Regions from separate parts of the Homo sapiens genome. Here region 1 is linked to region 2. Evidence: fine-mapped expression QTL. A gene starts in region 2. The other region holds a variant in brackets. All regions are shown on one strand. Distances are from middle to middle. Region 1 overlaps CIC (capicua transcriptional repressor). Region 2 holds the start of MEGF8 (multiple EGF like domains 8).

Region 1 (2,898 bases), 37 kb after region 2:
GGCCACATGCAACCATAAACCAAGTGGAAAAGAAAACAAAGGGGCCTAGGGGCCTGGATCCAAGTTCTGCCCACCCTCTGAGCCTTGGCCTGCTGGGTCCTGGGCAAGATTCTGGGCCCTGCAATGCTCACCAATGACATCATCATCCCCTTCCTCCTCACAGATGACCATGCGCTCCTCATCACTCGTCATGTCCTCACTGGCCGCACGCTGAGAACGAGAAGCTCGGGTGGGCAGCAGCGGGGGCCGCCCAGTGGCCGCCAAGGCACCTCCCTCACCAGGGGCTGCAAAGGGTCCTGGAGCTCCATACTGGGTAGAAGGCTTTGGGCCAGAGTACGATGCAGGGCCAGACACCATCTGCAGGATAGGTGGCAGAGAGGGTTCAGCGGGGCTGCTGCCCTGGACAGGTTCCCTGCCCACCCCCACTAGGGGGCCTGCACCCTAGACCTGCGTCAGTTCCTGTAGCGCCTGACTGTCTACTTCTCCGCCGTCCAGGCTGTGTACCCCGCTGTGGGAGAAAGCTCGGGGCCGGGCTGAGCCAGGTCCCCCAACTGTGTGTAGCCGTTCTGCCCCACAGGAGCTGCTCCCCGGAGCCTTGGTGTCTGAGCTCAGGAGTGTCTGGGCTGCAACGGACAGGAGCTCAGAGGACACTGTAAAGTAGAGAGTGGCGCTATGACAGTCAGTAAGCCTGTCACCAGCACCTAGACTGGCCCAACAACCCATAGATATTTCTAGGTACTAGGCAGAAGCAGGCTGGAATTTCTGGGCCACTTGGTGAAAAAAAAAAACCACCACCCACCACCAGTCCAGCATCTCATTCCTGCTGATTCCTGCCCTCTGGGGTTGCAGCAGGCCCATTCCCTGGGGGGCAGCCCTCCTGAAAGTAAGGAGGCCTGGAGAGAGGTTCATGTGGTGCTGGCTAGCCAACCGCTGGCCTGAGCCTCGGTTCCCTCATCTCAAAGAGGAAGTAACTAGTGTCCCCACTCTCATAGAAGTGCATATCCATAGCAACTATCCATCTAACCTCACAGAACTGCCATACCCATAGGCTCACTCCAAAAATGTGCCCCAGAACACCGCCAGGCACACCAGACAACCTCAATAAGTGGAAGCAGCCCATCAGGGGTGTTTGCGAGCTGCAGTGGCCCCAACTATGGTGCTGGGGGCCCGCCGAACTGGGGTTTACATTCTGGCTCTGTCATTTGCTTGTTTATGACTTTAAGCAAGTGATTTTGCCTCTCTGAACCTCAGTTTCTTCTTCTAGAAATAGAATGGGGTTTTGCAGACTACAGCTTATATTCCCTGTAGTGCCAGGCACATAGTAAACACTCGTTAAACAACAGTTGATAACGAGATTGCTGTTTGGGAATCTTAGTATCTGTGTGGATCTCCCTGGCTCCGTCACATGAATCAACTGCCGGTTCCTTTACGGATAAGGGTCGCCAAATTAAAGCGATAGAGCAGAGAGGAGCTGCTGGGGCAGGGGAGGAGCAAGCAAGGGGGTAGCTGGTGGCTCTCGGGGAGGGAGGTGGCAGGGTGGGAGAGCCAAGGGGCTGACTAACCCCCAGGGGCAGCAGCAGTGCCCGTCTCCGACATGCTCCGCTCCCGCGTCTCCTTGTGCCCTCCTGCCAGCCCCAGGCTCGTGGGCTTGGCCTCTGAGCTGGACTTCTTTCGGTCCTTGTTGCACCACTTCCA[A/G]TCTGGGTGGGCCTTGAAGTGGGCCTCCTTCACCTGGCAGGAGAGGGCAGGGCAACCCTTCACTCACCCACCCCACCAGAAGAAGCTGGGAGGAGCCAAGAGGCAACAGCGTTACCTGGAAGGCCAGGTCGTGGTACTTCTGCTTCTCCTTGGGCCCCAGGGCATACCACCACTCGCCCAGGATCTTGCTGACGGTCCGGTTGTCCTGGTTGGGATGACGCTGGTGGACCAGGGCCCGGTGCCGCTTGCTGAAGATCATGAAGGCATTCATGGGCCGCCGGATGTGGTCCTTCTCCCGCTGCATTAAACACAGCCCAGAGCGGGACAGTTAGGACCTGGCAGACAGGTGTGGGTGGCCACGGGGTGAGCACAGGACAGGCAGGGATAAAGTACCTTGTTGGGGCTGCGTCCATCCTTCTCAGAAGATGAGTCCCGTTCCTTGGGTAGGGCACTGAGGGACTGGGTCCGACGTTTTCCGGGCGGTAGAGGCAACTGGATCTCAGGAGACATGATGGAGAGGAAGCTGCGGCGGGGCAGCAGGGACAGTGAGGGCCATGTCTCTGGCCATCCCACCCCCAAGTCCCAGGCCTCAGGGAACTCACGCATCATCATGGTCACTCTCTGTCTCACTGTCCAGCCGGGGCTCTCCTGGGGGGCCGGAGGCCTCCTCCTCCGTGGTGGGAGGCGGACCCTTACCAGATTCCACCACCCCCAAAGGGTGTGGGGGTCCGGGTCCTGGGCTCTCAGGGCATGTGGCTCCAGGGGGCCGCTCAGGGTCAGCACTCCCTGTCCCACCTGGTGGCCGTTCATGAGCAACAGCTGCCGACTCAGCAGGTTCTGGGGACACAGAGGTAGATCAGAGGGCTCCTAGGCCACCTGGACCCCACACCCTTGCCTCCCCCCAGTCCCCACCAGCCCTCACCTTTGCTCTGGTTGGAGGCCACTGGGTGGCTGGCAGGTTGCTGGGCCTCGCTCGGCTGCACGGAGGGGTCAGGCTGGCTGGGTGCCAGGAAGGGGACTAAGGAGTGCCAAGGGAACACAGCCACAGAGCGAGGTTCCACATTCGTCCACACTGTGGAAAGGAGCCAGGTGAGCTGTGCAGCAGGAGAGCCTGGCCCCAACCCCAACTCAAGCTCTTCCCCACCCTAGATGAGGTAGCCCCACCCCTTTTGTCTACCCCCCACCCCCAACACCAGAGCCTCT
Region 2 (2,898 bases):
GGGAGGCTGAGGTGGGAGGATCACTTGAGCCCAGGAGGTCGAGGCTGCAGTAAGTAAATTGTGTTGGTACCATTGCACTCCAGCCTGGGTGACAGAGTGAGGCCCCCATCTCAAAAAAAAAAAAAAAAAAAAGTAGTAGTAGTAGAACCAAATTCAAAGCCAAATGATTGGACCCAGACCCTGAGTTCTTAACAGTTACTCAGAAGGCCCGGCACTGATGCTCCTGTCTTGTAATTGTAAATCTGGGTGTAGGTGCATCTCCCCCACCAGACTTGGAGGCCTTCCAGGGCAGGGCCCAGGTTGGCTGCAACCCTGGGTGTCAGGCATTTTAGAGCAAAAGGCCTGGACCAGAACCGAGCTCTGGGAATGTGGTGAGTGGATGAATGCACACATGAATGAACTACCAGCGAATTAGTGAGTGACCCACGCGGCCCCACTCACCCTCGATGAGCCACTCGCAGTTGCCATTGACGCTGTAGTTGCCCGCACCATCCGTCACGAAGCCTGGCGCCTCCCGCAGCACCTGCCGCTGCCCCTTGCAGTCCCCCGCCCGGGCCCCAGGGGACAGCGACCCCAGCACGGCCAAGGCCAAAACCAGTGCCATGGCCAGAACCTTGCCCAGGGCCATCGCCGCCTCCTGCACTGACCCTTAGAGCGGGGACAGGCCGTAAAAACCTGGAGAGGACCCTCTACCCGGGGTGAGGCCCTGCAAATGCGACCTCTATAGGCATAACATGACCTTGTAGATCGAAGAGGTCCCGGAGACCCGGCAGTCCCGGCGAAGGGTACGGCCACTGCTGACAGGCTCTGGAAGCCGAGGGCTGAGCCCTATAGAGCGATGGAAGGCCCTGTATATGGAGTCATTATGGACGGGGCCGAACCCTAGGGACCGTAGGAGTCCCCTATAGACACAGGGCTCCATAGGGGGCCGATCCCATGAACAGTGCCCAGCATTACGGACTCAGGCTGCTGCAGGCCAAACGGACCTTATAGACGGGTGGGTCCCCAGGGGGCGAAGGGCTCTACGGCCCGGCAGGAGCCTCCATAGAGGCTGCGGGCCGGGACAGGCTAGGTTCGGATGGTCCAGGAGAGACTCCTCCAGCCGGGGGCGGGGCGCGAGCGGGTGCCGGGGGCGGAGCCCGTCTTCAGGGGTTCGGGCCTGGACCCCACAGACCCAATCCCTTTGCTCACCCACCCTCGCCTCCCTCCGAAGCCGGATGGGCCAGATCAGAGAGACGAGGGGACGCTTGGGCCAGAGCGGCCGCGGGAAGACCCGCTGTGGGAGGGCGAGGGGGCGGGAGCCGAGCAGCCGCTGTGGGAGGGACGGCGAAGAGGAGGCGAGAAGTTACAGAGCGGCCGGTCAGAGCGGCCCTGGGAGGACTGCGGAGCGCCCAACCCCAACCCTCCATAAAGGGAGACTTCCGGGGAAATCCCCGCCCATTTGTTCCCAACCGCATGCGCAGCAGCGTCCTCCTGGAGGGAGAGAAATACACATATGCGCAGTGCTAAGATCGTAACCCAAACTCTGGGTGCCTGTGGTTCAGCAAAGCATGGGCCACTGGAGGGCGCCTCTACCTCTGAGTGAGGAAAGGAAGGCAAAAATAAAGGAGCGGTGCAAGACCCTGCTAGATGTTTGATCATCTTCAATGTTCCCACATTCTGGGGCAACATAAAGATCAGGTTATACAGGCCCCTGCCTCCGGTTCCAAATTCCCATTTCACAGATGGACACACTGAGGTCCCGAGCCTGACATAGTTCTGGCTCAGCCCCGCCGCTGAACACCATCAAGATGCAAAAGAAGCCATGTTATAGATAAAAACGAATCCTTTTTTATTTTGGCAAGAAGGGGTAAAATGTCTTTCTGCCAGGGACCCGAGGGAAGGCCCCCGGAATGGAGATGCGGCAGATGGAGTACGGGTCCGAGGTCACAGATCCGAGGGAGGGTTTCAGGGTCGAGACCAGCATCGCAATATCCATCCCGGGGTCGCAGAGTCCTGGAGAGTCACAGGCAGGGTCCCGGCGGTCACCACGGGTGTTCCGGAGTCCAGCGGGGTCAGAGGTCTCGAAGGGGGCCAGGGGGCCGGAGGTCACGGAACAGCGGGAGCCCAGAATCCGGCGCCGCTCGGGGCAGGGGCTGAGGGAGGGGACGGGGAGAGCGGCTCCCGCGGGACCGTTTGGCACAGAGGGGAGGGGGGCGGGACGCAGCGTACCCAACCTGGGCGCGCGGGGTGGGAAGGGTCGGGAAGGCCGGGGATGGGCGAGCTCTCGGGCCGGGATAAAGCAGGGGTCCGGAGCCCGGCCGGGGCCCGGTCATGGCCCATGGGGCAGGGGCGGGCAGGGGTGCTCAGACCGGGGGTGCAGTGCCCCCGGCCGTGTGCATGCTGAAGTATTCGGTGAAGCCGGTGTGCGGCGCTGCCGTCTGGGGCACGAGCGGCTGGTAGGGCGGCGTCGGGCCGTCCCAGCCCGAGTCGGCCGCCTTGGGGAACCGAGCGGGAAGTGGGGGGGAGGCTGCGCCCGGCTCGGCCATGGTCACCACGCGGCCCCTCGGGGCCACCGCCGCCGCCACCGCTGTCTCCTCCACCTGCTTCCCGGCCTGGGAGGGGGGTCAGGGTCAGAGGCCGTCCGGGACCCTCGGGGGGCAGATGCGGCCCCGAAGGCCCGTCCCCCTCCCCCGGAGAACCCTTCCACCCCAGGTGTGGACGCACGTTGTCAGTCAGGGAAGGACTGGGTGGCGGGGCGCCTGGGCAGCGGGGCCAGGTACTCAAAGGGCGGCGTCGGGGCGCGCGGGGCGAACTCCGGCGGCGGCCGGGGAGCTGGGGGAGAGCCGCGGAAGGCGGGCGGTGGGGGCACGGCGCAGGGAGTCTGCGGGGGTGTGCGCAACAGCGCCAGAACCCAGT

Evidence for each region.
Region 1: its variant is fine-mapped to the expression of MEGF8 in whole blood (TOPMed, PIP above 0.99).

Annotation. Positions count from the first base shown.
Region 1 is chr19:42,286,640-42,289,537 of GRCh38, reverse strand. CIC (capicua transcriptional repressor) reads right to left here. Exons shown (of 21, transcript NM_001386298.1): 3 at 2,618-2,767; 4 at 2,298-2,532; 5 at 2,089-2,218; 6 at 1,811-1,993; 7 at 1,563-1,728; 8 at 448-650; 9 at 132-357. Among named protein-coding and RNA genes, the nearest start is that of PRR19, 14 kb to the left of the region's middle. The variant A/G (reference allele first, on the strand shown) is at 1,696.
Region 2 is chr19:42,323,974-42,326,871 of GRCh38, reverse strand. MEGF8 (multiple EGF like domains 8) reads right to left here and starts at 1,237. Exons shown (of 42, transcript NM_001271938.2): 1 at 442-1,237. The coding sequence starts at 628. TMEM145 (transmembrane protein 145) reads right to left here. Exons shown (of 15, transcript NM_173633.3): 15 at 1,808-2,135. The coding sequence ends at 2,055. RefSeq lists silencers at 572-641, 652-721, 942-1,081, 1,122-1,311.